Linked DNA regions of Homo sapiens. The protein of the gene in region 5 purifies or fractionates together with the protein of the main gene of each other region. This does not show direct contact. Each region holds a gene or a part of one and is shown on either strand. Other genes may lie near its edges.

The links.
Region 1: the proteins of PRMT2 (region 5) and TTC28 purify together in Homo sapiens (affinity purification with mass spectrometry; 3 studies listed by BioGRID and IntAct, with this or other methods). This does not show direct contact.
Region 2: the proteins of PRMT2 (region 5) and SETD1B purify together in Homo sapiens (affinity purification with mass spectrometry; 3 studies listed by BioGRID and IntAct, with this or other methods). This does not show direct contact.
Region 3: the proteins of PRMT2 (region 5) and PPM1E purify together in Homo sapiens (affinity purification with mass spectrometry; 3 studies listed by BioGRID and IntAct, with this or other methods). This does not show direct contact.
Region 4: the proteins of PRMT2 (region 5) and L3MBTL3 purify together in Homo sapiens (affinity purification with mass spectrometry; 3 studies listed by BioGRID and IntAct, with this or other methods). This does not show direct contact.
Region 6: the proteins of PRMT2 (region 5) and LRFN1 purify together in Homo sapiens (affinity purification with mass spectrometry; 3 studies listed by BioGRID and IntAct, with this or other methods). This does not show direct contact.
Region 7: the proteins of PRMT2 (region 5) and VCPIP1 purify together in Homo sapiens (affinity purification with mass spectrometry; 3 studies listed by BioGRID and IntAct, with this or other methods). This does not show direct contact.

What each region holds. Positions count from the first base shown.
Region 1 is NC_000022.11:28,001,341-28,004,840, forward strand, and holds part of TTC28 (tetratricopeptide repeat protein 28), read right to left. Parts: intron 1,340-3,500; exon of another isoform or gene 214-1,339; coding exon 34-213; exon of another isoform or gene 1-33. UniProt on the Homo sapiens protein: During mitosis, may be involved in the condensation of spindle midzone microtubules, leading to the formation of midbody.
Region 2 is NC_000012.12:121,813,704-121,817,906, reverse strand, and holds part of SETD1B (histone-lysine N-methyltransferase SETD1B), read right to left. Parts: intron 3,802-4,203; coding exon 2,977-3,801; intron 875-2,976; coding exon 613-874; intron 538-612; coding exon 203-537; intron 109-202; coding exon 3-108; intron 1-2. UniProt on the Homo sapiens protein: Histone methyltransferase that catalyzes methyl group transfer from S-adenosyl-L-methionine to the epsilon-amino group of 'Lys-4' of histone H3 (H3K4) via a non-processive mechanism.
Region 3 is NC_000017.11:58,968,481-58,972,683, reverse strand, and holds part of PPM1E (protein phosphatase 1E), read right to left. Parts: exon of another isoform or gene 3,146-4,203; coding exon 2,957-3,145; exon of another isoform or gene 2,655-2,956; coding exon of another isoform or gene 2,585-2,654; intron 553-2,584; coding exon 409-552; intron 1-408. UniProt on the Homo sapiens protein: Protein phosphatase that inactivates multifunctional CaM kinases such as CAMK4 and CAMK2. Dephosphorylates and inactivates PAK. May play a role in the inhibition of actin fiber stress breakdown and in morphological changes driven by TNK2/CDC42.
Region 4 is NC_000006.12:130,049,282-130,053,484, reverse strand, and holds part of L3MBTL3 (lethal(3)malignant brain tumor-like protein 3), read right to left. Parts: coding exon 4,092-4,203; intron 3,835-4,091; coding exon of another isoform or gene 3,730-3,834; coding exon 3,655-3,729; intron 2,237-3,654; coding exon 2,077-2,236; intron 627-2,076; coding exon 494-626; intron 1-493. UniProt on the Homo sapiens protein: Is a negative regulator of Notch target genes expression, required for RBPJ-mediated transcriptional repression. It recruits KDM1A to Notch-responsive elements and promotes KDM1A-mediated H3K4me demethylation.
Region 5 is NC_000021.9:46,662,167-46,665,845, reverse strand, and holds the end of PRMT2 (protein arginine N-methyltransferase 2), read right to left. Parts: intron 2,464-3,679; coding exon 2,292-2,463; intron 1,552-2,291; coding exon 1,519-1,551; coding exon of another isoform or gene 1,472-1,518; 3' UTR 722-1,471; downstream 1-721. UniProt on the Homo sapiens protein: Arginine methyltransferase that methylates the guanidino nitrogens of arginyl residues in proteins such as STAT3, FBL, histone H4. Acts as a coactivator (with NCOA2) of the androgen receptor (AR)-mediated transactivation.
Region 6 is NC_000019.10:39,314,127-39,318,329, forward strand, and holds part of LRFN1 (leucine-rich repeat and fibronectin type III domain-containing protein 1 precursor), read right to left. Parts: 5' UTR 4,200-4,203; intron 2,011-4,199; 5' UTR 1,956-2,010; intron 1,248-1,955; 5' UTR 1,211-1,247; coding exon 1-1,210. UniProt on the Homo sapiens protein: Promotes neurite outgrowth in hippocampal neurons. Involved in the regulation and maintenance of excitatory synapses. Induces the clustering of excitatory postsynaptic proteins, including DLG4, DLGAP1, GRIA1 and GRIN1.
Region 7 is NC_000008.11:66,628,529-66,632,731, forward strand, and holds part of VCPIP1 (deubiquitinating protein VCPIP1), read right to left. Parts: 3' UTR 1-4,203. UniProt on the Homo sapiens protein: Deubiquitinating enzyme involved in DNA repair and reassembly of the Golgi apparatus and the endoplasmic reticulum following mitosis. Necessary for VCP-mediated reassembly of Golgi stacks after mitosis.

The DNA.
Region 1 (3,500 bases), on a different chromosome or scaffold from region 5:
CCCCCGGCCCCCCACCATGTGTGTGAGCCTTACCTTGGACTGCACGCTGAGGGAGCGGATGGAAGGGACAGCAAGGAGGCCGAAGCGCTCGTAGAGGTACTCATTGGAGGAGCTTCCCTTCAGGAGGGCGAAAGGAATGAGGTAGAGCTCCCCCTCCAGAACCAGGATGAGCTGCCGGTGCCGGCCCACGGGGCCGCTGGAGTGCATCAGGCCCTATGGAGCAAGCACGGAGAGGCTGACATGGGTGGCCCAGCAGGCAGGGGTTTCAGGCACCAGGACAACCCTGAGCCCTAGCCTGGATGACACAAGCACGAGCAGGTGAGGCCTGTGGGGGTGTGGGGCGCCATGGGGCATGGGCCGAGTTGCAGCCCTGCAGGAGCGGCACCAACTGGCATGCTCGCTTGTGGACTGGCAAGGGCTGGCCTGGCAGCATCCATCTGCCTCACAGTCCTGAGAAGGTTAGAGGACAGTTTCTTGAAGTTCACAAGAACCTGAAGTGGGTTGGAGACCGGTCTGTACCGCACAGGCACCCTGAGAAGGGGTGGGAATGGCCCCTCTCAAAACAAGATCTGTTTTCCATTTCAATGGACAAGAGGCTAGAAAATCACAGTGAGGACGGGAGGTCTGGGGGCTGGCATGACAGCCCCTGTAGAAGGGGATGGGCTGGGTTCTAGGATCTTCCGTGACCTCCTCTGAGAAAGAGTGGCCCCTTGGCTCTGGGCTTGGGAGGTGCCGTCCCCACTTGTTCCCTCTGGGGATGTCAGGGGACCCAATGCATGGATGACTCCCATCCCTCTTGAAAGGCCGAGCATGAGGACTCGAGGCAGGGTGTGCACAGGGCCACAGCGGACACAGCCTCATTCCTGTTCATTGCAGAACAAGGCTAAGGGCGCGGGCATCTTAATGAGAGCAGCAGGCAACAATCCTGGAAGCTGGGTCCACACAGACTGCGGTGAACAAAGAGGTGGCGTGGAAGCTGCTGCTGCAGCCCAGAGCCTGCCAAGAAGGTCCCAGGTCCACAGGGCCTGCGCAACACTGGGTGCCAGGGGTGGGGCTGGCCTGCCCCCCAACCCCATCTGCTGAGGAGTGGCTGACAAGCGGACACCCACCAGGGTGCCACTCGCTTGTGCCTGGGGAAGCAAATGTGCTCGCTTGACCCGTCTGATGTGCTGCCGTGGGCACTTGACTGAGAGTGGCAGAGCACTAGGCTAACCCAAAGTGACACATGCCTGGCGGGATGTTCAGTCTCTGTAAACCCATATGGTTTTTTTTTTTCTTTCCTTTAAAAAAAATTTCTAGCTCCATCTAGCGAAAGCAGAAATAAAAAGTATTAGGCCAATTTGTTTTTCATTTGTTTGCTGTAAGAGCTACAGCATGGGCCAGGCACCAGTGGCTCACACCTGTAATCCCAGCACTTTGGGAGCCCAAGGCGGGAGGATTATCTGAGGTCAGGAGTGCAACATGGTGAAACTGCATCTCTACTAAAAATCCAAAATAACCGGGTGTGGTGGCATGCACCTGTAGTCCCAACTACTCAGGAGGCTGAGGCAGGAGAATCGCTTGAACCCAGGAGGTGAAGATTGTAGTGGGCCAAGATTATACCAGTGTACTCCAGCCTGGGGGACAGAGCGAGACTGTGTCTCAAAAACAACAACAAAAAAAGAGCTACAGTATTTCCCAAGAGGAGGTAAATTAATCACTGTTCAATTGTGCAACCTAGGCAGGAAGAAGTAGGGGTGTGTCACAGTGACCCCGACACTGTCTATGGATGAGCTCTGGGTTAGCACAGGGAGGAGAAAGAGTTGTAGGGCACCTGGGCCCCATGGCCTGCCATGGGCCACACCTGAGCTCCCTGGCCGGCTCCATAGGTAAAGGTGGCTCAGGGGGCTGCTCTGGAGGGCAGTGCCACCACACCGTGGAGGTGTGCCAGTGAACCTCGAACCAGCCGCAGTGGCACAGCTGATGCTGCCCTGACCCTGCTGACAGGGTCAGCAGCTGTGACAGTGATGACCACCTGCTGCTCAGTGGGAACTGTGCTGCCTGAGAATGGGTAGTGTGGGGCTTGAGCCACCTGCCATGTGCAAAACTGGACCCACTTCCACTGTTCCAGAGTCGCAGGGCTTTGCTGTGACAAGATGCCAGCCCCAGCCCCAGCCCCAGGCCTGCAGGTCCTCCCTGGGCTCCTGCTGCCTAAGCCCAAACCACAGTAAGTTTCTGTCAGATATCATCCCACAGGCTACTGCCTTCACCAGGACACACGCCACTCATAGACAAGTCCCTGGTCATGACAGCACCTAACTGTGTGAACCGGAGGGAAGCTTGGCAAGCTGAAAAATGGAGAAGTGAGGCTGGAATCCACGCAGAGCAAACATTCACTGGCAGCCCATCTTCGTAGAACTCTGCTAACTCTGCCCACGAAACCTCATCTGCGGCACAAGCCTAATGATCAGAGAATGCATGTCCTTGAAGGCAGCTTGTCTGTCTGCTCCAACACTCCACCAGGGGTGGGGGGCATCTCCTGTGGCCCTATTGTCAGAAGTCTCCCAAGCTGGGCCTCGACTTTCCCATCAGCCACTGAGTGGTGTCCGTCATGTGCCTACTGGGGACCGTAGGGAAGTCAGATAAATTTAGGATATGGTCCTTGCTTGCAGACTTATGATGATGTACTTAGAAAACTAAAATGCACACAAGAGGCCATTGCTGAGTGAAACTCAGTATTGTCAAATGTAACACCTTCATGGCAGCATGGCAGCCCCAGAACGGGGAAAGCCTACCCAGGCTGACGCTGGGCCCACCCAGGAGGGTCCGTGAGGGTTGGGGAAGGCCTGGGCAGATGCTGTTGCCAGGTGAGCACAAGGCTAAAGAGGGACATGGGAGCCAGACTGTGGGGGCGCTGAAGATCAGGCAAGAAAGTGTGGTTCTTGTTGGCTGTCAGGACCCGCCATGCCTTCTCAAGCTGAGCCCTGCAAAGCATTGAGAGGCAGCCTGCCTGCCTGCGGGAGAGGGGGCTGTACCCAAGAGTAATTCAGACCAGGGCATGCCCACCAAGAGAAGAGACAAGGAGACTTGCTGGGACTCAGTGAGAGTGACCTTAGCAGGTGAGGAGAAGTCTGAAGTCCAGGCTGGGAGATAGGGAGGCTGTTCTCTGAACCTCATATCCCAATTTGGAGGTCTGGGTCCTCCCTGCATCATGCCTAGGAGCTGGTACCAAGCTTGGCTCATGCATACAACCCTGGGTGAAGGTCCCCAAATGGGACCCCTGTCCAAACTCTGTGAAATGAGGCAGGTGACAGTCGCAGCTGTTCTCTGAAATGTGTGGGCTTGTGGGGAGACGGGTAGAACAGCAGGCTGACAGCTGCCGTTCAAAGGGGGAAACTGATTGGACATGTTAGAGATAATGCCCAGGAAACTTGTCAGCTCTGACTCTGGTGTATGTGTGCTGTCCTTGCACTGAAAGATTAGTTATAATCCAACGTGAACTTGAAAAGGGGAAAGCAAGC
Region 2 (4,203 bases), on a different chromosome or scaffold from region 5:
ACCTTCATCCGAGTCCCCTTCGTCCTTCTCACTCGCCTCTGACAGGGCTGTGTCCTCGTCATCGTTCTCAGACTCGTCCCGGTCATCACTGTCGTCATCGTCGTCATCCTGGGGGAGAAGGAAGAGTGGGGACAGGTGAGCCGAAGGGTCTGGCCCTCGTCGCCTGGCCCGGCCCCCTGAGGCTTCCTGGCCTGCTAGGCACCTTATCTGATGTGGATGAGGTTGAGGAGGAGGAGAGCTGGCTCCTGGGGACTTCCTCCTCCTCCTCCTCCTCCGCCTCCTCTTCCTCCTCGGTGCTCTCCTGTTCCTCCTCCTTGTCGGAGGCCGAGGACGAGGGTGAGGTGGTTGAGGACCCCGAGGATGATGACGCGGATGAGGACGAGGACGCCGACAATGACTCCTTCTCGTCCTCCTCCCCACCACTGTCCAGCTCCAGAGGCCGCGCCGGCCGCCGCCGCACACCCACGCCCTTGGGGTCCCGCTTGGCGAGCTCACAGGGGGTGTCTGCCATATCCCGGTCTCGCTCTCGCTCGGACTCTGCAGGAAGGGAGGGAGTCAGAGCTGGGCTGGGGGGATGCGGAAGAAGGGGACCCCAGCACCCAGAGCACGAACCTTCATCTTCCTCATCCACAGAGGTCGAGGGCCGCAGCCGCTTCTGGTCGCCAGATGAGGTGGTGTCTGGTGGCTCCTTCCTCTTGACCTTGAAGGAGGGCAGGCGAATGGCCCCACGCAGCCCAATGCCCAGGCCCAGGCCCTCGTAGCCCAGGCCCTCGCCCTTGCCCCATGACTCCAGCAGGCACGAGGCGATGCGGTCCTTGGGCTTCGGCCTGTCCTCGTCCTTGTGCTCGCCCGACTTCACCGGGGTCAGCGAGGCCTGGGGTGGAGACAGGAGGGGACCGTCACCGCTTCTGGCACCACCAACCCTTGCAGGGAGCCCTCCCCAGGCTACCTGCCTTCCACTCGGCAGTAACAGCCACCACAGGTAACTGCATCCTCATTCCCTACACACCTGGCCACACTATGCCGTTACCCACGAGGCTCTAGAGCACCGCTCTGCCTCATAGATCTCAATGTCCTCCCCTGTAGAATAGGACTACTGTACCTGCCTTCCTTACAACAGTGGCCTTTGCACTTTGCAGACAATCCAAAAACTACACCATAGGGACACATCTGTGCAACACCACCTTCACAAGGTAAGATTTACACTATCCCATTTTCTCTTCTCTTCCCATGCATTAAAAACAGGACCTACTGGCTTTATTTCACTGCTCACTAAGGGGTTGCCCCTGTGGTTCTGAAATGCTCTGCCTTCAAAGGGATGCTGTGAGAATTAACAAAACGAGCCACATGAAGAGCTTTGCAAGGTGCAGGGCACATGAGGCCTGGTGGCTCTTTTTATTCAAATTGTGAATGGAATAGCTATTAGCTGTTACTGTAGGGTCAGTATAATTTGGCTGAACCATAAAGAGCTGTGTATCAGTGATTTCAGACGGTTCATTCTAATTTTACTGCCCAGTTAAACGGATGACAAACAGGCTCTGACAAGTGCTGCTTACCTCTGTGGCAGAAAGCAAGCATTTCCCAAAGCAGGCTCCAGGGGACACTCAAACTCATAACCACGGTCGAGGGAGGGGAGCAGGGGGGAATGGGGTGGAGGGGAGGGATTAAGGGGAGTTTAAAGTATTCAAGAAAAAGTTCTCTCTTATGGAGAAAATAAGTAATTTTAGATTACCTGTAAGATTGCAAACAGGCAAATAATATGTTAAAAAGGAAAAAAGAGACCAGGCATAGTGGCTCACATCTGTAATCCCAGCACTTTGGTAGGCTGAAGCAGGTGGATCACTTGAGGTCAGGAGTTCGAGACCAGCCTGGCCAACAAGGTGAAACCCCATCTCTACTAAAAATACAAAAATCAGCCAGGCATGGTAGTGGGTGCCTATAGTCCCAGCTACTTAGGACACTGAGGCAGGAGAATCGCTTGAACCCAGGAGGTGGAGGCTGCAGAGGGCTGAGATCACGCCATTGCACTCCAGCCAGGGTGACAGAGTGAGACTCCATCTCCGAAAAAAAAAAAAAAAAAAAAGAAAGAAAAGAAAATAGTAAGTAGGCCAGGAGCGGTGGCTGACGCATATAATCCCAGCCCAAAAGGCAGAGGATCACTTGAGCCTAGGAGTTCAAGACCAGCCTGGGCAACGTGGTGAAACTCTGTCTTTACAGAAAAACACACAAATTAGCTGGGTGTGGTGGTACATGCCTGTAGTCCCAGCTACTTGGAGGCTGAGGTGAGAGGATCCCTTGAGCACAGGGAGGTTGAGGGTGCAGTGAGCTATGATTGCGCCACTACACTCCAGCCTGGACGATACAGCGAGACCCTGTCTCAAAAAAACAAAAAAAGGAAAAAAGTGGTCCAAGACAGGGCTCCGTGTAAAAGGCGGCATGAGGGGAGGTGAGGGGAGTCAAGTTCAAAGGGAGTCGCAGCTGTGAGCTGTCTGCAATGGGCGGGGGGGGCAGTCTGCACCAGCTATCCTGTGTACTACCACTAGGCACCTGTGGCTCCCGAGCACTTGAAATGTGGCATGTACAAAGGAGGAGTTTTAATTTTACTCTGTTTTAATTCATTTAAGTTAATTTGCACATTTATTTTTAGAGATGGGCTCTTGCTATACTGCTCAGGCTGATCTTGAACTCCTAGGCTCAAGCAATCCTCCCACCTCAGCCTCCCAAAGTGCTGGGATTAAAGGTGTACGCCACCATGCCTGGCCACTCATTTAAATTCAAAGAGCCGTGTGCATCTAGTGGCTGCTGAAGTGGAGCACAGTTTGCGGAACTTTGAAAGTGGCCACATGAAATGGAGCTCCCATAGTGGGGTCCACGGCAGCGTTTCCAGTTAACAGTCTCAGGGAAAGAGGAGGTGCCCGGCTGGGGACCTGCCCCCCTCCACAGCCACCCTGCAGAGCCCTGCACCCACCCACCCACCTTGGCCATCCGCTCCTTCTTGTCCCACCACTCGTCAAAGGCCCGGAAAGCCACCACTTCCACCATCTTGCGGTTCAGGTCACGCTTCATGATGGCCTTGAGTTCTTTGAGGACCACCAGCAGGACGCCATCCACCGTGGCTTTGTGTGGGTCCTCCTGGCGTGGCATGTAGCCTGGTGGAGGCACTGACGGGTCAAACTTGGGCAGTGGTGGCCAGTGCTGCCCGCGGCCTGGGCCGGAGTTGCTCAGGGAGAAGGGGCCCCGGTAGGGCGGCAGGTTGACAAACTGGAGCCCAGCTGAGGCAGCGGCGGCCGCAGCGGCCATGAAGGGCGGGTAGGGGCAGGCGCCCTGGCCCGTCATCAGCCGGCTGAGCACCTGCGTTTGCATCTGGAAGGACATGGGCATGCCGCCCCACTGGCCACCCAGCACGTGGCTCATGTCCACCTGCATCACAGGGAACAGGCCCGGCGGAAAGGGGGGCAGTGGTGGCAGGATGGGTGGGGGCGGGACTCCAGGCGGCGCTGGCAAGGGTGGTGGGGGCACTGTCACAGCAGGGTGGGCTGGAGGGGGTGGGGGCGGCGGTGGGGGCAGCGGTGGGGGCATGGGGAAGCCAGGCTGCGGTGGGGGTGGTGGTGGTGGGGGGGGCAGCGGGGGGAAGCCAGGTGGCGGGGGCAGCGGCAGGGTTGGGGCTAGCACAGAAGGGGCTGCCACGGCTGCCGCTCCTGGGGTCACCACCATGGGCTTGGGGCAGTCAGCGCTGGTGATGGGGGCCGAGGGCATCTCGTCATCCGAGATCTCCATGTCCTCGCCTGAGGACTGCTGGCCCTGCAGAGAGAGCAGGGAGAGACAGTGAGGTGAGTCTGGAAGGCCAAGGGGCTCTCGGAGTCCCCTCTGCAAGACTAGCAATCAGTGGCACTCCCAGCTGTGTGACCCAGTGCAAGCCATTCAGCCTCTCCAAGCCTCAGCGTCTTCATTTGCAAAATGGGCATCATAGTCCCTGCCTCATGGAGTTACCACTAGAATTCATTCATTCATTCCAATTCAACAAACATTTGCTCAGTACCTGTGTGCCAGGCACTGGTCTAGGTGCTGGGGACACAAAGTTGAAGAGGCAGGCAAACATCTTACTCTTGTGGAGCGGAGCCAGCAGGAAAAGGCAAAAGGATGATGAGGGTGAATACGGGAAACGTGAGGGAGAGAAAGAAGGCAGGGAGACGGGTGGGGCAC
Region 3 (4,203 bases), on a different chromosome or scaffold from region 5:
GATAGCAATAATTGTAATAATTAAGTGAATCCTGGCCGGGCGCGGTGGCTCACGCCTATAATCCCAGTACTTTGGGAGGCCGAAGCAGGCAGATCACCTGAAGTCAGGAGTTCAAGACCAGCCTGGCCAACATGGTGAAACCCCGTCTCTACTAAAAATACAAAAATTAGCTGGGCGTGGTGGCACATGCCTGTAATCCCAGCTACTCGGGAGGCTGAGGCAGGAGAATCGCTTGAACCCAGGAGGCGGAGGTTGCAGTGAGCCAAGATCACACCATTGCACTCCAGCCTGGGCAACAGAGTGAAACTCCATCTCAAAAAAAAAAAAAGTAAGTGAATCCTAATCAATAACTAGAAAATCTAAACTAATAACTAGAGCATGGGCTCTATTAAAACAGACCATACTTACCTCTCTGTCTGGTTTGTGTGGCTTCATTAGTTCAACAGCTTGGCCCTTTCTCACAAGCATAACCTGGGAATCACCCACCCAGGCCACATGTAGCATGTTGCCTCTGATGAAAGTCACCACTCCTGTGGTCCCACATCTTAAGCTCTGAAAACAGTTTAAATAAAACTAGACTCAGTGAAAAGAAATAGATACTACATTCTTATTGAGAAGCAATTTATAATTAAGCTTTTCAGCTGGGAGCTATACTATTAATAATGGAATTTCACACATATATAATAATTCATTGTCTCAATGCATTTGTATATGCATGTATGTATTTATGTGTATATACACACATAAGTCCACCTGATCTGTGATATGCAGGGCGAGGATGATTATTAATTCCACTTTAAATATAGATAAGAAAACTATGGCAGGTTATGTGACTTGCCCAAGGGCAGGTAACTATTAGTATATAAGACAGAATTGAAATTCTTTTTCCTCCCAGTCAAGCACTAAATCCTCTATACCAATCCTCAGAGTAAAAATTTCTATATTCTGCTCTCCATTTCATTACTGACATCGTATTTGTTCAGTGGGAGAGTCCTAGCTGTATAAAATGATATATAAAACATCTGATTGGTACACAACAGATGCTCTAATCTCTGGAAATTAAGCTAAGGGGCCAAGAGACAGCTTACGTTCCCTGGAGTACTAAGATGCTTATACCTTTAAAAAAATATCCTTCCTACAGTATTTTTAGGGGTCTTTGCTTTTGGAACATTGCATAAAGAACTAACAGCCTGGAATTTCACTGCAGTAGCTACGACTGTACTTAAAGCTCTTGGTCCTACTATACGAAAATGACATCCCCATTTGACATGAGTCACCACCAAATGAGCATGACTTTCTGTTACTAAGGACCTGGCCTAAATTAGAACCAATGCGTCAGGGGTGGTAAAAGGTCTCTTGTATCCAATGAGAAAAACAACTTCTCGTTTTCCCTATATAGGGAAAGTTTGTTATAAATCCTCACCCACCAATAAAATGTCTTCCCACACAGAATGTTCAAAAACTCAGCCCCCTAGAACACATGATAAACACACTTCAGTGCATATGCCCTGGAGAGAACAGGAGGCAGGGCTGCTTCATAACAGGAATAGCTGTTTTCTTCCCAGCAGTTAGCAGCACATGGAAGCATAAGAAGGAGAAAAGGGGCGCTGAGACAAACCTAAATTATTCAGAACTATTGGCAGAACTGAGAGACACCAGGGTCACTGACAAAACAAATGAGGTAAACATGGTCAGAAAACAACAACAACAACAACAACACATAATTTTGAGAAGACAGAGGAAAAAAAGAATAGAATAGAGGATGAAGAAGACAGAGTGAATCTCTTTGTTTCACATTGATGATTACGGGTCACCTCTCAGGGGCCGGCCCTTGTCCTCGACTCAGATGATAAAAGCCCACAGCTTCAAGAGAGGCAGAGCCAAGCAGAATGCAGGTCCTCAAGAGACTGGAGCTCTGAGGTCAAGAGTGGCTTTATTCTCCAGACCCACCTCTTTGTGTGGACTCTACTGGTTACTGTTGGATTTGCATATTAATCCAAACTTAGGGGAGGGGAGAGATGAAGAATAATTCTCTTTCTTAATACCAAATAGGTCTGAGTTATTGTTTCATTAATTCTAAGCCCCATTATTGCTTGTAGCATAACTATGCTATCAAAAAATGGATTAAATGATTACCCTGATCTCTCCAAGCCCATTTTAAAAAGAGTTAATGTTTAAGTCACAGGGCAGGAGTCTTATTTTTTGTCTGTATCTACTTCTGTAATTATTTTTAAAAATTAAAAATTCTTTTATTCGTCCCCAGTTAAAAATCCAATATAGAACACTGTAGTTAATTATGTACCAATACCCAGAACGATAATTAGATTAATTTTTTTACTTTTAGACCTTAATATAGAGCCCTTGCCATTTATTCAAAGTAAAAAAAACTTAGGTCTGATTAACCTTCGCAATGTAGGACATGAGCTCTTCTTTTCTCCCTATTAAGAGAAAAATCAGCTCAAGGATCATTTAAGGATTCACCCTCTCCAAGCGAATTTTCCCTCAAGAGATACACAGCAAAACACTGCCTACCCATTTAGAACCAAATGTATGGAAGTAATCCCAGTTTCTGTTTCTTTTTTAGACCATTGTTTTATTCACCATATCCAGATCTTGTCAGCAAGAGTCTGCTTAGAGAGATGGTCCTGGTGTGAACCTGACAGGCAATGGTGAATAAAAGAAAGATGAAACTCACCTGCCAAATCCAGCAGTTATTACAGAAATGAATCCAGAAAATTACAGCTTGAGATTTTCTATACAGTACCTCATTGTACCCCCTGAAACTCTTCCTGAGGAGGGAATTGGAACTACAACAGAATCCAATACTGTGAGTCAAGAATACAGTTTGGATAATGTCTGCCCAGAAAGAGAAAATCTAAATAGCCCTTTAACCACACAGACCAAATTGAGCTCAGCTAGTACATTTCTAGCTGGAACTTATGAGAAAGGGGCATACCTCCCTGGCTGCTTTCTGCACAAACCGCTCATCAGTGACCCGGAAGGCCCTGCACAGGGCCTCAGCAGGATCATGGGGGAACATCTCCTGGCGGACTAAGTTAACGTGGAGGTGAATGGAGGCATAAATAGCAGCATCTACTCCCCCATGGCCATCAAACACTGCAAAGTAAGCTTGTTCTTCCTGGTCCTGTCAACAGAAACACAGAACAGTTATGGGAGTTGGGTATAGCATGATTCAAATGAACCAATCTCCTGGCATCATTGTTGCCCATCCTTTCTCCTCCACTGCATTTGTCATTCAGAATAATGAGACTAAATGTTTTCCTTCTCTAACATGCCTGATCAACTGCTGAAATACCTGCAATATTAGGGTATCTGTGTTTACACACCAGAACACTGGAACATGTCATGCCCAATTAGCTCAAGCTGAAGTGCCCTCTCTCTGTGAAAGTTGTTGTCTTGTACCATGGAAACCACCCACGTACATTTGCTTCAAAATTGCTGTTACAAGTTGGGGGAGGGGGGATAGGGAGGGTATGAGAAGGAATTGAACAAAAGCAGCTCCAGATTGAGTGATTTTTTTCAAAATGAAAGTACTTTAATAGCAAAATTAGAACCTGAGAACAATAGAAAATAACTGGTCTTCCAACACAAGGCCAATTAAATCAAGTTTAAAATATATAAAGATATGAAAGCATAAACATACTTCTAAACTATAATACCTTCTTCATAAATCATTCCCAGTCACACTGCATTCTCACCACAAATAGCACAGCATCTCTAAACTAGTTTACCAAACTTGAACCACATCAGATGCTCAAATGCCCTGTGCGGCTGACCACTTTGCCTCACCCCATGATCTAAGATTTTAGTTTCACATTTCCTTGCAAAGTAAACTGCCAGAGGAGGATCTTCCAACCCTGTGCTTTGTCTTGACAAAAGCCTAATCATAAGATTCCACATCAACCATTAAGCAGTTTGCTGCTTTATCATCTGCTCAAGTGTTTAAATCTCAGATCTGTCTCACTTAGGAGATCTGTGACGCACTGAACTCGCACTGAGTCCTGAGCTCCCTTCAGGCAACAGTATGTAATAATTTTCATTTGCAAGTCTTTTGACTTCTTTTTCTGTTCTAAGAGCCTTAGAGGAGTCCAGGCCTGTCATTGATTCTTAAGCAAATCATGTAGTTTTCTCATCTGTTAGGCAGGGACGAGTTGCTGTCTCATGGGGATTTGGAAGGGCTAC
Region 4 (4,203 bases), on a different chromosome or scaffold from region 5:
TTTTTGTATTTTTAGTAAGGAAGGGGTTTCACCGGGTTAGCCAGGATGGTCTCGATCTCCCGACCTCGTGATCTGCCGGCCTCGGCCTCCCAAAGTGCTGGGATTACAGGCATGAGCCACCACGCCCAGCCCACTCAGATAGTTTTATGAGATCTGTCTGCAATTTAAAGAAATGAGATTGGCATTGTGTTGTCAAGAGGAATTTAAGATTCATCTACAAGACTGAAGGTTTTTAAATGTTCCCTTTCACCCTAGCACTAAATTTCAGGACATCCCACTTTTTCACCCTGAGAGAAGGATACTATTGTTTATGATTCCCATTTTGAGATCAGGACAGCAAGGCACACAGAGGCCATGTAACTTACTGACACTAACACAGATAGTCCTGGAACCCACATTTGAACTCAGTGGGCTCCAGAGCAGTGCTTGTGACTGTGATGCTACCCACTAAAGATGCATCCCTGTGCTCCTGGTGTCAGGCAGAGGCACTCACCATTTCATCATCTCTCTCTTCTCCATCCTCCTTGGTGTCAGCTTTCAGAGATAATTTTGGTTTTTTCTTCCGACTACACTTAGGATCTTCTTCCTCATTGTCTTCTTCTACGTCCCTTTCTTCCTTCTGATCTCTGTTGTGTTTATAAACCCAAAATAGTGACAAGAGACAATACCTATCAAACATCTACTTGTTGATTATCAATGCAACAATCATTAAAAAAAAATCACCCTGCAAAGGAAAAATCTTTAACTACCAGGAGAAATCTGTAGGCATGAGAATATCATATATCAGGAACACTGAAAACAACTATTACATATGACATCTGTCTGTCAGGGCAGAAAATGAAAATTACCTTATATATTAATTTCAAAAGGGGGCCAGCAATATGTATGAAATAGGTTCTAACAAGTTATTTGTCTGTCACATCTACCATCTATACTAATAAAAGAATTGATTATTTAGAGATATTTGTTTTCAGGGTCAAAGAAGGATCTAGCAGTTATTAAGAATGACAAATCCAATTGAAAAAAGGCTAAGTGTAACATTGTGAAACATCAGTTATCCAAGAAAAACAAGACAGTTCCAGTTGGGCGCAGTGGCTCACACCTTTAATCCCAGCATTTCGGGAGGCTGAGGCAGGCGGATCATGAGGTCAGGATATTGAGACCATCCTGGCTAACATGGTGAAACCCCGTCTCTACTAAAATAGAAAAAACTAGCTGGGTGTGGTGGCGTGCGCCTGTAGTCCCAGCTACTCGGGAGGCTGAGGCAGGTGAATTGCTTGAACCTGGGAATGTGGAGGTTGCAGTGAGCCAAGATCACGCCACTGCACTCCAGCCTGGCGACAGAACAAGACTTCATCTCAAAAAAAAAAAAAGAAAAAGAAAACATTTCCCAAGCCTGTGCTGATTAAAATACATGGGAAATGCCACTAAAATATAAATGTCCAGTCATTTCTTTGTAGTATACAATGATATGCAAGAAAAACACCTTCTTGGTGATAAGCTGAACTTTGTCAGACTGTCCCCAAATGGGAAGGTCACACACCACTACCAGTTACAGCTGATGCCTCTGTCTCATAATCCTCAGTCCACACCTTGAGATCATCAGTGACCCAACTCACTACACTCTTCCCTATGGCCATTTCCATTCAGCTGATTACGAATCAGTGGAAGCTTTATGCCGTAGGTGGAGTTTTAACCGAGTTACCTAAGAATTCCCAAAATATAAACAAAACTATGTTTCTATAAATGTCAGTGTCATCGAAATGTGTATATAGCCCAGAAAAAACTAAATACTCTTAGCTGAAGACAATCAAATGAATGGAAATGGAAGACTGAAGGCAGAGGCAGAGGCTGTTTTGCAGGCAGAATATTAGTAATACAACTCAGACCAGGCATGACAGACGTCACCAGGTCCCATATAGGGGTTAGGGCCCATGTGGCCCTAAAGGAAAAGTCTCTGGGAAAAAGGTATCAATAGGTGATCAATGTCCGAGAGCATAAAACTTCTATATTCTCAGGCACCATGACTTTGGAATCTAAAACTCAATTTATAGATGGAATGGGGCAAAAACCTACTTATCTTTGATGTGCCGAGCACAATTCTGGCTGCAATAGTTTCCTCCAGAAAGACACTCATCTACGTTGCCATACTGACAACAGTTCTCACAGAACTGAAGCCCTTCTACTTTCACTGGATCCTTCAACCTGAAAGGCATCCCAGTCTTCTCTGAAAAGACTAGAAGATGAAAAGAAGAAATGCAAATTACAACCATGACAGAAGACATTCTAAAATACAATCAAACTTTTTCTTCTAATAATTTTGTTAGCAACACAATAAAGAATAGTGTTTGCTGAATGAATGAATGATCAAATGATAGTGTTTTCGGGGGGTATGGGCTCTGTAAAAATCACTCAAGTCATTCAAATAATGAAAAAATATTCTGCAGAAAGGATAAAAGCTTGCCCAAGGCTTTTTCTACAGAGTTCAAAGTAAAATGAAGAAAATTTCACTAGTCACTAAATTCAGAAGACGCATATATCGATCTATAGAAACTTCTTCTATATTTGTATCTTTCAGAAAATTTCAGAGGATCTTCTTTTATTTCACATTTATAATCTTTTGATGAATGATTTTGTTTTACTTAATTGGCTAAATCAACATCTCTTCTATTACGCTTTCAATGTAGTACATTTCCTGACTCATAGCTATCCAAATTGTGTAGAAACTCGCATTTCCTTTTGCCTGAATTGTTAGGCTAATCATTCATTCAGCCAGCAGTTATTAGGCACCAATTTATTCTAGACATTAATAATGACAGTAGAGACCTTGCCCAAGAGAGCTCACAGTCTAGAAGAAAAGAGAGGCAAGAAAACCAGTATTTATAATAAAATGTGATACATGCAATACTAGAGGCATAAACAAGGTCCAGAAGTAGTACAGAAGAAGTGATTCATTCAGCCTGGGGTAAGGTCAGAGAAGGATTTTCTGATAGAAAGCCTCAACAGGGTTTTGAAGGCCAAAGAGGAATTTACCAACTGGACAAAGAGAGAAATGGCATTTGAGCCAGAAAAAGCAGTATGAGTAAAGGCAAGAAAGCATGAAACCACATGATGTGTTGGGAAAATTACACGTAATTCTGTGCTGCTGGCACTGCCAGAACACAACATACAAAGAAGGAAACAGAGACTGAGGAGACAAGGCGAGCAGGTAGGTGCAGGCACCCAGATCTTTGTATGTTCTGCTAAAAAGGCAATGAGAAATCAGTGAAGTGTCAGATAAGCAATCTACGTTAAGTTCCTCTGGCTTCAAGGTGCAGGACCAATTGGAAGGGGGTAAAATTAGAAGTAGAGTGACATCTGCAATAGTTCAGATGAGAGTTGAGAAGAGCCTACATTAAGGCCATGGCAAAGATGATAGATAGAAAAGGCCAGATCTGAGACATATTAGGAAATAAAAATCAAGAGGTATAAGTAACAGGATATGGGGATGGGAAGAACAAATTCAGGATGACTCCTGTGTTTCTTGCTTGTCCACTGGGTGGATGGTGCTATTGTCAACTGAAATATGGGTTAGGGAAGAAAGAGCAGGTTTGTGGGGAGGGGAGAAAGAAATAGAAAATGAATTGCATTTCAGACATGTGGAGTTTGAGGTACCTGTGGGACATCCAGGTGGAGATGTCCAGTAGGCAGGTGGAAATACGGGCCTGGAGCTCGGGGGAGAGGTCGGGGCTGGAGATGTAGATTTAGGAGTCATCAGCATATAGGTGTTAGTTACAACCATCGGAGTAGATGAGAAAAAAAGTGGCAGGCTTTTGGCTAAATCACCTGTGTAGGCTACAACATGGATTTACTTAATTTCCAACTAACCTTGTGCTACTACAGATCTGGCATTAGGACAAAGAAGACAGTTTATAGTTATTTTAAAACATAAATGCTGGCTCCTATCAGTTTCATTATAGAAATTTACCTAACAACATGAGGCACAAAAATTACCCGGGGCCTTCAAAGTTCCAGCCTATTATAAAACTTTAGATATTCTTATTTCAAATCTTTCAAAAGCAAGAAATAAAATGCAGATGACCCATCCTTACCTTCTTGAGCAGTTGGTACCATCCAAGTGGTGGTAGCAGTTGCTTTTTTAACATTTTCCATCTCATTCTCATCTGTAATAACTTCCAGGGCTCCAAACTCATTTACCCGAAA
Region 5 (3,679 bases):
GAAATGTCCACAGTCTCAGTAATCATCATAGCTAAACCATGGCAACAACCCAAAAGGACACCATGTGAAACAAGATCATAAACTGTGGTCTATTCATGCAGTTGAATACTATGCCACAATGAAAAAGTCAACCACAACCACACTGTCTAAAATTCATAGATGAGTCTCACAAACAATGTTTAATTAAAGAAGGCAGACACAAAAGAACACGTGTACAACTCCATTCAGGCAAGAGTAATCGACAGTTACAAGTCAGGACATCACCCTTGAGAGGGTGGGCACTGAGTGGAAGGGGAATCGGGGAATCTGTAGTGTGTCCTGGCCTGGATGCTGGTTACATGTGCGTCCACTTTATAAAATGCCATCATCTATGTACCCATGACTAGCACTGTTTTCAATATATATTTGATATTTCAGTTTTGTTTTTTGGGGTTTTTGAGACAGGGTCTTGCTCTGTCACCCACGCTGGAGTGCAGCAGTGCAATCCTAGATCACTGCAGCCTCAACCTCCTGGGCTCAAGTGATCCCCCCGCCTCAGCCTCCCGAGTAGCTGGGACTACAGGCACACGCCACCATGCCCAGCTAATTTTTCTATTTTTTTTGTAGAGATAGTATCTCGCTGTGTTGCCCAGGGTGGTCTTGAACTCCTGAGCTCAAGGAATCATCCCACCTCAGCCTCTCAAAGTGTTGGGATTACAGAGGTAAGCCACTGCACCCAGCCTATATTTCAATAAAATTTAATAAAAATCAAAACAATACAAAAAAAAATTATGGACATGTATCTACTGATGTGGAAGTTTTTTCACAATATTGAGAAAAACTTATAAAGCAATGCATATAGTATGATCCTGTAATTACAAAAAATAACATATATGCATAAAACAGGATACACAATGACATTCACTCATTTAAAAATATTTATTGAGCATGTGCGATGGACCAACACATAATTTATTTGGAAGACGTCTACACAACTGTACTATCCCATGCAGAGTCCCATCGCATACATCACCACCTTAGCTCGCACGCTGAGCCAGGGCAGTGTTCCCTACACGCCACTGGCACAGCCCTGTGCAATCCTACGTCCCACACGAGTGGATGAGCGACGGCAGTAAGGGCACCACTAACATAGGAGGTGGGGACAGTCACTGTCACAGGGTACACGGGCTGATATGCGTGCGTCCTAGGAGTGTAGACCTAGACCTAGCTTAGGAACATGGAGCTCCGACCCAGCCACGGGTCGGCACTGTGGGCACCACGGGTGAACACCTGGAAACACAGCCTACTTCTAGAGGGCAGACACTGGGCAGCGGGGGTGGCCACGGCAGCTCCTGCCGAGCCCAAGCGTGTTTGTCTGTGAAGGACCCTGACGTCACCTGCCAGGCTAGGGAGGGGTCAATGTGGAGTGAATGTTCACCGACTTTCGCAGGAGTGTGCAGAAGCCAGGTGCAACTTGGTTTGCTTGTGTTCATCACCCCTCAAGATATGCACACTGCTTTCCAAATAAAGCATCAACTGTCATCTCCAGATGGGGAAGACTTTTTCTCCAACCTGAAAAAGATAAATGACAACAGGTCAATCAGATGATAAATCATTTGATTAACATACTACATTTCCTAATGGTTTAATATTGGACAAGAGAACAGTATTCAGGTGCAGAATTTTTTTAAATGACAAACTTTTAACAAAAACTTATCACAAAGCAAAGCACAAAACAAATATAAAAAATGAAGGAAAACCATTTATTTTTATTTTCTTTGCCACATTAATCCTGAGCCCAAAGAAGAACATTCCATTTTCAGCAGCCTCTGAGACAGGAAGCCCAAGTGAGCTGGGCGAGCTACACATGAATTCACACACGGATCCGAAGGCTGCCAGTCAGAACACGCATCACAGACGACACGCCTAGACTAACTGCTGCCTGGGAAGCCACAGAGGCCTGTGTAAAGGGAGCGCCAAGGCACAGCTCAGGCTTCTGTCCATCTGGGGGACCCTCTGGACATGGCACAAGGGGCCTCAGGCTGATGTGGGTCTCTGCTCTCCCTCACTTACCGTGTCACCTGAGGGAATGACTTCCCTGACTTCCCTTCCAGAGCCCTCCACTTCCCGTGCTGTCAGATGGGAAATGAAGCCAATGACAACAGGCGCTTTCTGTGTAAGGATTAAATCACTCCTGCACAAAAGGCGTGGACCCCAGTGTGGGCCAGCATCTGCCATCACTACCACCACCCAGGCCTGTCTCCCTGAGGACCGGCACCCACAGGACAGAATCTTACAACTACGTATCTTACTTTTTGAGATGTGGGGTCTTGTCTGGAAGTGACAGCCCAGCTCAGAGCCACAGACATGTGCCTTCTCCACACTGGGTTTCTCTGCAACACAACTGAACCCGTGACCACGTCTCCTGTATGGACAGGGACTGGGTCGTCCATCATGAACAGCGTCTGCTTCCAGTGTGTGGTGCTGCAAGACAGGGGTGCGTGTGACCTGGAGGCTGAGCTAGGGCAGTCTCCACATGGCCCTCGGGGCGCTGACTCAGGCTCGCACTGGCTCTCGCCCCCAACAGCACCCACACAGCCGGCAGTCCACCCTGAGGGCCTGGGGACACAAAGCTTGGCTTTTCAGGCTAACTCAGGGAACATATACACCCCCAGCCCTGTGATCTAAAGGGACTCTATGGGATACACTGGGATCAAAGTTACGCTAGTGAGACAGATCCTGCCAATGCCAAACACAAGCTTGCTCCTGAGACCACTCAGATTCCAGGAGGTGTGGACGGCTCACCCTGGGTGGCCCAGAGGATGCGGGAGCTCAGGGGACACACAGCTGCACTAAAGGTCCCGTGTGGTGTCGACTCCCCGGCCCGCCAGGAGGACGGCTGTGCAACCCCTTCCTGCACCCTTGCCTAAGCTGCAGAGGCTGGTGATCTAGCTCCTGCTGTTAAACTGTGGTGTACACAGACAGAATCAGGTCCAAGGAGTCGCTTCTGTGAAGGTTACAAGGTGAGGACAACTGTCACATTTGGGGGGAAATAGTAAAACGCTATGATTCTGCACTGGGTTGCGTTGGAAACATCTCTAAGTTCCTCAGGCTCTGTCTTCCCTCAAACTCCCACTGTCCACGGTGGGGCCAGCAGTGAAGTGGGGGGCTCCTCAGGTCTCCAGTTTTTCCCTGACTCTGGTCACACCCCTCACCCCAGCCTGTGCCCCAGGTCACTGCCCCCTCCACGCCCCCAGACTCGGGGATGGGTATAACTGGCCTCCAAGCTGCCCACCTCCACCCGGTGATGGCACTGGAGGGGCCACCACAGGACTCTTGTGATGGGGACCACATGCCAGGCCAGGCCATCAACCCCGCACCTCTGCGACCTCCCTGGAGCCGGGGTCCCCTCGCGGGGCCACCACGCTGGGAAGTCAGCGGGGCAGGTGCCAGAGCGGGGTAGCCAACCCCACCCAAAGGGAAGGCCTGCAGGGCCCTGAAGGCAGCTCCACTGCCACACATGCCCAGGGTGCTGGCGGGGAAATGTGTCCCAAAAAACAGGCACCTCCAAAAACGTCAGGTGAACCCCGACGCCCCGTGGAGGCGCTTTGGGTCAGACCATGAAGAGCTGTGGTGCTCCTCGCGGGGTGGAAGACAGGGAGCTCCTCCCGTTGGGGCTGTTGTCGGAGGGACGCCCAGG
Region 6 (4,203 bases), on a different chromosome or scaffold from region 5:
TGAGAGGCGGCGGGGCAGCCGGCGGGGGTGCCATCAGAGGCAGAGGTACCACGCACACCTCCACGGGCGCCGTCGCTTCCCCAGCAGCATTGGAGGCGATACAAGTGAAGGTGCCACTGTCCCTCAAGGTGGTGATGGTCACATCCAGCGTCCCGTCCCCCCGGACCCGGGTCCGGCTGGAGTTCCCCAGCAGCCGCCCATCAGGTGCCACCCAGTGCACCACCGGCTCGGGGTCACCCACCGCTCGGCAGCGCAGGCTCACCGCCTGGCCTTCCACCACCAGGGCCCGGCCCCCCGCCTGCCGTGTGATCAGCGGGGGCTCACACAGGAACTCCTCCTCGGGGATGGACCAGAAGTAGCGGTCGGTGAGGTGTTCGGGCGTGGCGCAGGTCTCTAAGTCGTCCTCGCGGGTCAGCCGCCGCAGCCAGAGCAGCTCGCAGTTGCAGTGCAGGGGGTTGCCGCCGAAGCTGACGGTCAGCGGGGTGGGCGGCTTGGGCCCGGTGCCCTGCGACCTCAGGAAGAGCCCGTCGGGCGGGAGTTTATGCAGGCGGTTGGAGGTCATGTCCAGACGGACCAGCTTGTGAAGCTGCACGAAGGTCCCCTCCGCGATGTGGTCGATGAGGTTGTGGTCCAGCGTGAGGGTGTTTAGGTTCACCATCTGGCCCACCGCCTCCCACGGCAGGGCCTCCAGGTTGTTGTAGGACAGATCCAGGTCCTCCACGGTGGACAGGAAGGCGTCAAAGGCCGCCGACTCCACCCGGCGGATCTGGTTGTTTCCAAGGATCAGGTGGCGGAGGTTGCCCAGGCCGCGGAGCTGGTCGCCGCGCACCTCCGCCAGGCGGTTGCTGTCCAGGTGCAGGGCCCGGAGGGCACGCAGGTCGGCGAAGGCGCCAGCTGCCACCTGGCCGATGGTGTTCCGGGAGAGAGTGAGGTGCACCAGGCTGGTCATGTTGGCGAAGTCTCGGCGGCGCACGGCGGCGATGAAGTTGTCGGTGAGCCGCAGCTCCACCACGCGCCGGTCGATGGCGGGCGGCACAAAGAGCAAGCCGGTCTTGGCGCACAGCATTGTCAGTGTGGGCGCCACGTTCTGGCAGATGCAGCGGCCGGGGCAGGGCTGGCCACGAGATGCCCCCGCCCAGAGCAGCAGCAGAAAGGGCAGGGCAGCGGGCGGCGGCGAGAGGAGGGCCGAGGAGAAGGGTCCTGGAGCCATGGTGCAGTGGGAAGGCAGGAGGGGTGGGAGGTGAGACCTGCCGGGGAAGGAGCCGGTTACCCAGGCGTGGGACTTGGCCGCCATGGGATGTCCTGCTACGAGTCAGGCCTGGATCCCTCCCCTACCGCCTACAGCTGGGTTCCATAGGATGGTGAGAGGAAGCCACTATCAGCTATTAACAACAGATTACAACACTTCCATGCTGGGCACAGTGGCTCACGCCTGTAATCCCAGCACTTTGGGAGGCCGAGGCAGGCGGATCACCTGAGGTCAGGAGTTCAAGACCAGCCTGGCCAACATGGTGAAACCCCGTCTCTACTAAAAATACAAAAATTAGCTGGGCATGGTGGTGGGCGCCTGTAATCCCAGCTACTTGGGAGGCTGAAGCACGAGAATCGCTTGAACCAGGGAGGTGGAGGTTGCAGTGAGCCGAGATCACACCATTGCAATCCAGTCTGGGCGACAGAGCAAGACTCCATCTTAAAACATAAATAAAAATAAAAATATCTCTATACTGGTTGATAGAATACCCCTGTCCCTACTTGCGTGTCCCACCCTCACCTCTGCCCCTCCTGTAGTAGCTCCCAAACCTCTCATGATCTCCCAACCAGAGGGGTGACACCTGGCCCAACCTGGGCCCTCCAGTACCCACTAAATTGTCTAAAAAATCACTGTTAACTATGGTTTAAGGCCCTGGCTATCCAAGCCATACTCCCTAGCTCCAAATCCCAGCTCTGATACTTACTAGCTGTGTGACCTCCAGCAAGTATCTGAACCTCTCTGATTCTCGGTTTCTTCATCTGTAAAAGGGAGATAGAAACAGGCCTTACTTCTGTGAGGATTAAATGTATTGATGAACATAGCATACTTAGAATAGTGCCAGGCATATAAAATGTGCTTATTACATGTTAGCAATCATCATCATGATCATCAAGTGCTTAATATGTACCAGGCATAGAACAGTGCCCTATTATTGAGAGTAAGTACTTTGAAATCAAACAGACTCAGGTTCAAATCCTGATTCCCCTTTTGCTAGCTCTGTGACCCCCAAGCCAATGATTTCCCCTAGCTAGGCTGTAATTTCTTAATCTGTAAATTGGGATGATAATTGTACCATCTTCATTCATGTACCACCGACCATGCCTGGCATACAGTAAGTACTCAATAAATGTTAAGGGTTTCCCCCCTCCCGCCTCTGGCATTGGCAGGGAGAGTGTCAAAGTGGGAGGGACTGAGGAAAACACATCAGAGTCTTCCAGTTCAGCCTCAGGAAGGCCTTCTCTGAGGTCTGGTTTCATCCTGGGCTCAGTTGAGCTCCCAAGCAAGGCAGACTTTCATGCTCACATCTTTGGGTACACACAACACACACACACACACTCACACACTCACACACTCACGCTATGTCTCTGCTCCAGGCAAAACCTTCCGGCAGGGATTCCCCCTGCGGCGGCTGCAGCCCACGACATGTCAGTTCCCATCACAACACAGGGTGGGCGGGGGGTGAAGAGGAAAGGATGGGAAGGGGGCGTCCCTAAAACTGTTTTCACCCCACCCTGCCCTGTACCCTAGCCCCTGCTGGCCTACCTCCCAGGAATCTGTGTTTGGGGCTACGGCCTTAGGTGGCTTTGATCTTCCTGCCAGTGGGGAGGGGGCCTGGGACAGAGACCAGGAAAGTCAGAGACAGAGGTGAAGAGAGACAAGGAGAGACCAGGGGGAGGGAGAAGTGGACTGGCAAAGAGAGAGAGACAGATTGGGAGAGAAACAGAGAGACAAAAAGATGAGTCTGAAAGGAAGGTGAACAGACAGAAAACTGAGAGTGAAGAATGAGACACAGAAAAGAGAGAGACACAGAAAAAAGACACAGAGATGGAGAGAAAAATAGAGACAGTATTAGAGAGAAAAAGACAGAGGAGGAAAGAGACAGAGAGTAAGAGAGACAATGACCGGGCTGAAGGCGGAAAAAGAGGCCGGATCGGGGTGTCCTACCATCTCTGAGTTCACCCCAAATCTGTCCTTCACTCCCTCTAGATCACTACTCTACAATGTACTGGAAACCCTGGCCTAGAAAGGGGGACTCCAGAATTAGGAGCCTGAGTCTGCCCCTGCTTGGCTGTGGGGTCTTCAGGGCTCAGAATCCCAGTCTATGAAACAGAAGTCCAGAGCCTCGCCTCCGACAGCTGGGGTAGGACTCAAATGGAGGGAATAATAATAGCAATGGAAATAGCTAACATTTATGGAGAGTGGTGCAGCACTGCAGGACAGAATCCGCCCTACTGCCTGGGTTCAGACCTCACCTCCCCACTGTGTGACTTTAATCAAGTGACTTCCCCTTTCTGTGCCTCGGTGTGCTCATCTGTCAAATGGGAATAATAATGGCACCCACCTCATAAGGTTGCTATGAGGATTTAATGAGATAATATTTTATGACATGCTTAGAATAGTTCCTGACAAAGTAAACACTATATACATGTGAGCTGCTGCTATTATCATTATTATTATTACTATTATTATTACTAATTTATTATTTTCTCCAGCTTTCTCAGCCACCAGGAGGTCAGGCTATCGGGAGATCTTCCCACACCCATGCACACGCACATACAAAATGGGCAAACATATTCACTCAACCCTCTAAATGCAGGGGTCATTTCATATCTTGACATATTCTTGTATCCTTTACTGATATCATGAGGAAACCTTGCTTTCCCAAACACCTTAACCATCCTGAGAATGAATGTCTCTTGGCCTGAAACCCCCCACCTGCTCCCCAGAGCCACCTGGCCACCACAAGCCCTCACCCAACTTTGATGTTCCTGACCTTGTCACCACTCCCCAGCCTTGGACAGAGTGGTGGGCAACTGGTCCTTCAGGAAACTGTCATCCCCTGAACTGAAATCCATGCGAGGCAGGGTTCCAGACCCCCAGCTGGCTGACAGCAAGCCCCATCACCCCCCATGTCTCTCTCTCTCTGAAGCCTTACGGCTCTACTCACCTCT
Region 7 (4,203 bases), on a different chromosome or scaffold from region 5:
ATTATTAAGTCAGAATTGCAGTTGCTGGGGTCTGAAAGAGCCAGACAATAAAAATAAAATCCATAATGAGCTGTTATAAGTAGGATGTTTATCTTATTTACTAAAGAGTTTTTGAGAATTCTATTCTGATGGTATGTGACCAATGGCATGCATATACAAGACCTCAAGTCCAAGTTTGGGATAACTGTAGCCAACACCTAAAGGAAAGGTAATTATGTTTTAGTTTACATGGGGCTCATACCCATGTCACTTGTCCCATCAGCACTATGCCCTCTGCAAGTAAGACTATGACGACAATGGTCGGCAGAACAAAAGGTTGACAATTGTGAAACCACAAGGTTACAGAAGAAATTGAGGCCTTGAAAGGCTCCAAGACTTGCCTTGGGTCACAGAGCACACTGTCGGTTTGAGATTCTCAGTGTTGCACATGGTCATAAATGTTTGAATGTACAACCCCCCATTTTTTAGTCAATTATGTACAAGTAAAATAAGTTTTAATGTAACAAATTATTTAAATAATGTGTGCCCTGTGAGGATTTATCCCACTTAATGGCAACTGAACTCTACCACATTACATTAACATATAACATAGCAAATATTTGAGTGTTTACTATGTGTCAGGCACTCTTCTAATCATCAGATACGTGTTAACTCATTTAAGACAGCCACCCTGGGAGCAGATGTGATCATCATCCTCGCAGAGAGGAATGCACAGAGAGGTCACAGAAAGCAGCGTACCAGGAGTCAGACCTAGGCAGTCTGGTGTCTAAGGCTATACTCTAAATTATTGAGTTAAATGATCTAATAAAATGTATATTAAGCATATACAATAAAACTTGGAAGTAAACGTGTTGACTGCTAAGCTACACAAACGTTATTTAGTACTATTATCTGTATTTCCTTTCATTTCCTTATCACTAACCAGTATTTTTTTAAACCACCACAAAATCAAGTTCTCTGTTAGAATTTGCCTTCATTTTTAAATATTCAGTAAGCATTATGGCCCAATTATGTAATATGTCTAAAGAAATTTTGCTGGCAGGGTGCGGTGGCTCACGCCTGTAATCCCAGCACTTAAAGAGGCAGAGGAGGGCAGATCACTTGAGCTCAGGGGTTCAAGACCGGCCTGGGCAACATGGCAAAACCCTATCTCTACAAAAAATACAAAAATTAGCCAGGTGTGGTGGCACATGCCTGTAGTCCCAGCTATTCAGGAGGCTGAGGTGGGAGGATCACTTGAGCCCAGGAGGTTGAGGCTGCAGTGAGCCCTGATCATGCCACGGCAATCCAGCATGGGCAGCAGAGTGAGACCGTTTTGGTTTTTTTTTAAATTGCGCACTCTTTTTTCACTGGGTCCATTTCATCTAGCAATGAAATCTACATTAAGGGGAAAAATCACTATTCCTGTACGATAACCCGCTTAAGTTCAACAAGAAAACTTTATTATTTAAGAATTTCTTTATAAAACTGAACTATATGTTCATGCATTATAATTCCAGGAAACTAAAGAACATAAAATTACCTTTAAAAGCTAATGTGGAGAATTTCAGGGGAAAATCAGTATTAACTTATAGTTTTATTATTGATATAAAAGAAAACTTCAAATACTGTACAGTAAGGTGTGCTGTAGAACACTATAATACACTATTACCAATTATTCATTACTCAAATGTAATATATACAGTAATCACGAAATCGGAAAATAATGGGCAACAGCCAGTGCCTTAAGGGTGAAATAACATCTATACTATTTTATTGAGCAGTTAAAGCACTTGCTATTTTTCTAAATATTTACACTATTACTGCTTATGTTTACAAATTCTAAGTATCATTTCCCTCCAAAAAGTAGACTTTCCAGTTCTTGGCACTAATTCTTAGTCAAATAAGCCTGAAAATACTGGCAACCTTTTCAGTCTTGCATTGCTCTACCACAGGCATAATAAGGGCTCAGGACGAGATTTCTGCATTCTAAAGAAAAGTAGGCAATACCTTAAAAATTTAAAAACTAAGTAATTGATACTCACAAGCAGGTAACATCAACTAAAACTTTTTTCTTTACTAATTTTTCCTTTTCTTTTACAAGAGAATAATCATTAATATTATACTACAAAAGCATGTAGTCTCCATAATTAAAAAATTAAATGTCAGATATACAAGTAATGGCATTTTCTCCAATAATTCATAATTTTTACAATTTCTGCTATTTTGGAACAAACATTAAAATTCCCACGATTTAAGTATCATTAAATATGAACTGAAACACTTAGCATCTCAAAGAATTATCAAGAATGGTAGAACTTGTAATTAACTCTATAACTTACATGGGTGATATAGTTCCCCTTTGTTGTTTTATTTCTTAAATATACATTCTACTAAGGAATATTTTCATGTGAACAGCTCTGGTTTGAAAAATTAATTTATACTGTGAAGAGCCTTAAGGTTGTACAATTTTGTTAAATTATATGATAACCTTGAATGGTAGGATGCATTTACTCAACTTAGAATATGGCGCTATTATTATTATAAATGGTGGTTTTTAATTCACATTAAGATAGGTGGAATTTAATCCAATTTTGCAAAGGCTTTGTGTTTATAAAAATCTTAAGATGGAAACCTTGCTTTGAGAACCATAAAACTCAAAATCTGTGTAGTATTTTAAGTATGAACCAATTGAAATTACTGTTGAAAAATGAAGACAAAACTGTATTGATATTCTGAAATAAACACTTTATGCTGCCACTATATTGACCAGTTGAAGTGTAATTAATGACAGAAGTAAATTTTTTACCTAAAGGTTAGTTATTAGTGAGGTCTACATATTTAGAGAGTTATTCAGTAGCAGATAGTATTGGTAGGTAACTACATAAAACAATACTTTTATACATTTTGCATTTAGTAGCTAACATGTGATGTCAGTACAATTCTCAAAAACCTGTCATTAGTAGTATGAGTTGCTAGCAAGTGATCTTCCCTGAGGTAAGAGACCATATGCAAAAGTCAGTGTTCATCTCCAATGAAGATACTTAAAAATAATGGCAATAAGGACCTGTGGCCAGGAATTACAGATGCATTTCAGATTGATATCTTAATTGCAAGCAGTAGGCTTGACTGTAAAAACCAAACTAAAAATCACTGGAAGACACAGAGCCAGTATCAGTCAATAGCATTTGCTAACTTTCTCAGGCCTCTACCCTAACATTTTCCAATAAAAATATCTGAAACAGAGTGAAGCGGGAGAAATGGGTTTGCTCTTTAACTAGTTCCTGAGTAACCATTCTCATGGAGTTAATTATATTCTATCTTAATATATGGCAGCATCTTGTTTTCTTCAATTTACAACAATTTCTCATTACCAGTATTCTAGATACATACTATCTTCAACACTACCTGGACTTTAGGTCATCAACTTAAATTTGGTATGATTAACTATAAAATGGATTACTGAAGAAAAAATTTACAACTTTATTTCAATGTTTAGTGAAGCACTGCAAACAGAATTGCAGGAATGCATTTTAGTTATAATGTTACCTCTAGGGCTAAAAAAAAAAAAAAAAACAAATTTACCTGAGATGTCTAGCTTGCACGCCAAGATGTGGCTATATCACAAATGGCAGTACTAGAAAAATAACCATGCTATAGTCATGTATTTGGTTATGAAAACCATATGGAAAGACAAAGGATGATATTTAAAAACTTAAAAGAAACCCTATTCTAAAACTTCTTTGTGAGGATACCTGGCCTACTTCTCAAAAACCATCAATTCACCCCAACCAAATTTTCAGCTGATTTGAAAGAATTTCAAGAAATTTGATCACTTATCAGAATTGAGCCTTTTATTCATTTATCAAGGGAGAACCCAAACTATTACTGTACTATTCATACCTAACTGGCTTTTAAATAGCATTGCTGTAGCTAGAGAAATTAATAAAGTTGTCAGAGATTAAGTCCATCTTCTAACATTCACATACGCATTCCAATTTGCACTAAATGTAAGAATAGGGAGATAAAGTTTGTTTCTGGTATTTTATGTTAATGCTATGAGATATCTGTCAGTTATCAATGAAGAAAATATTTGTTAAAGAAGATTATATCATTTTACATGAAAGCAGTGCATTTTTTGCTTAAACAGTTTTCCTGTATTTAAATCCCCCCAAAAAAAGTTCCAGTGGCTGAAAAAGCCAAAAATAATTATAGTGGTTAGTG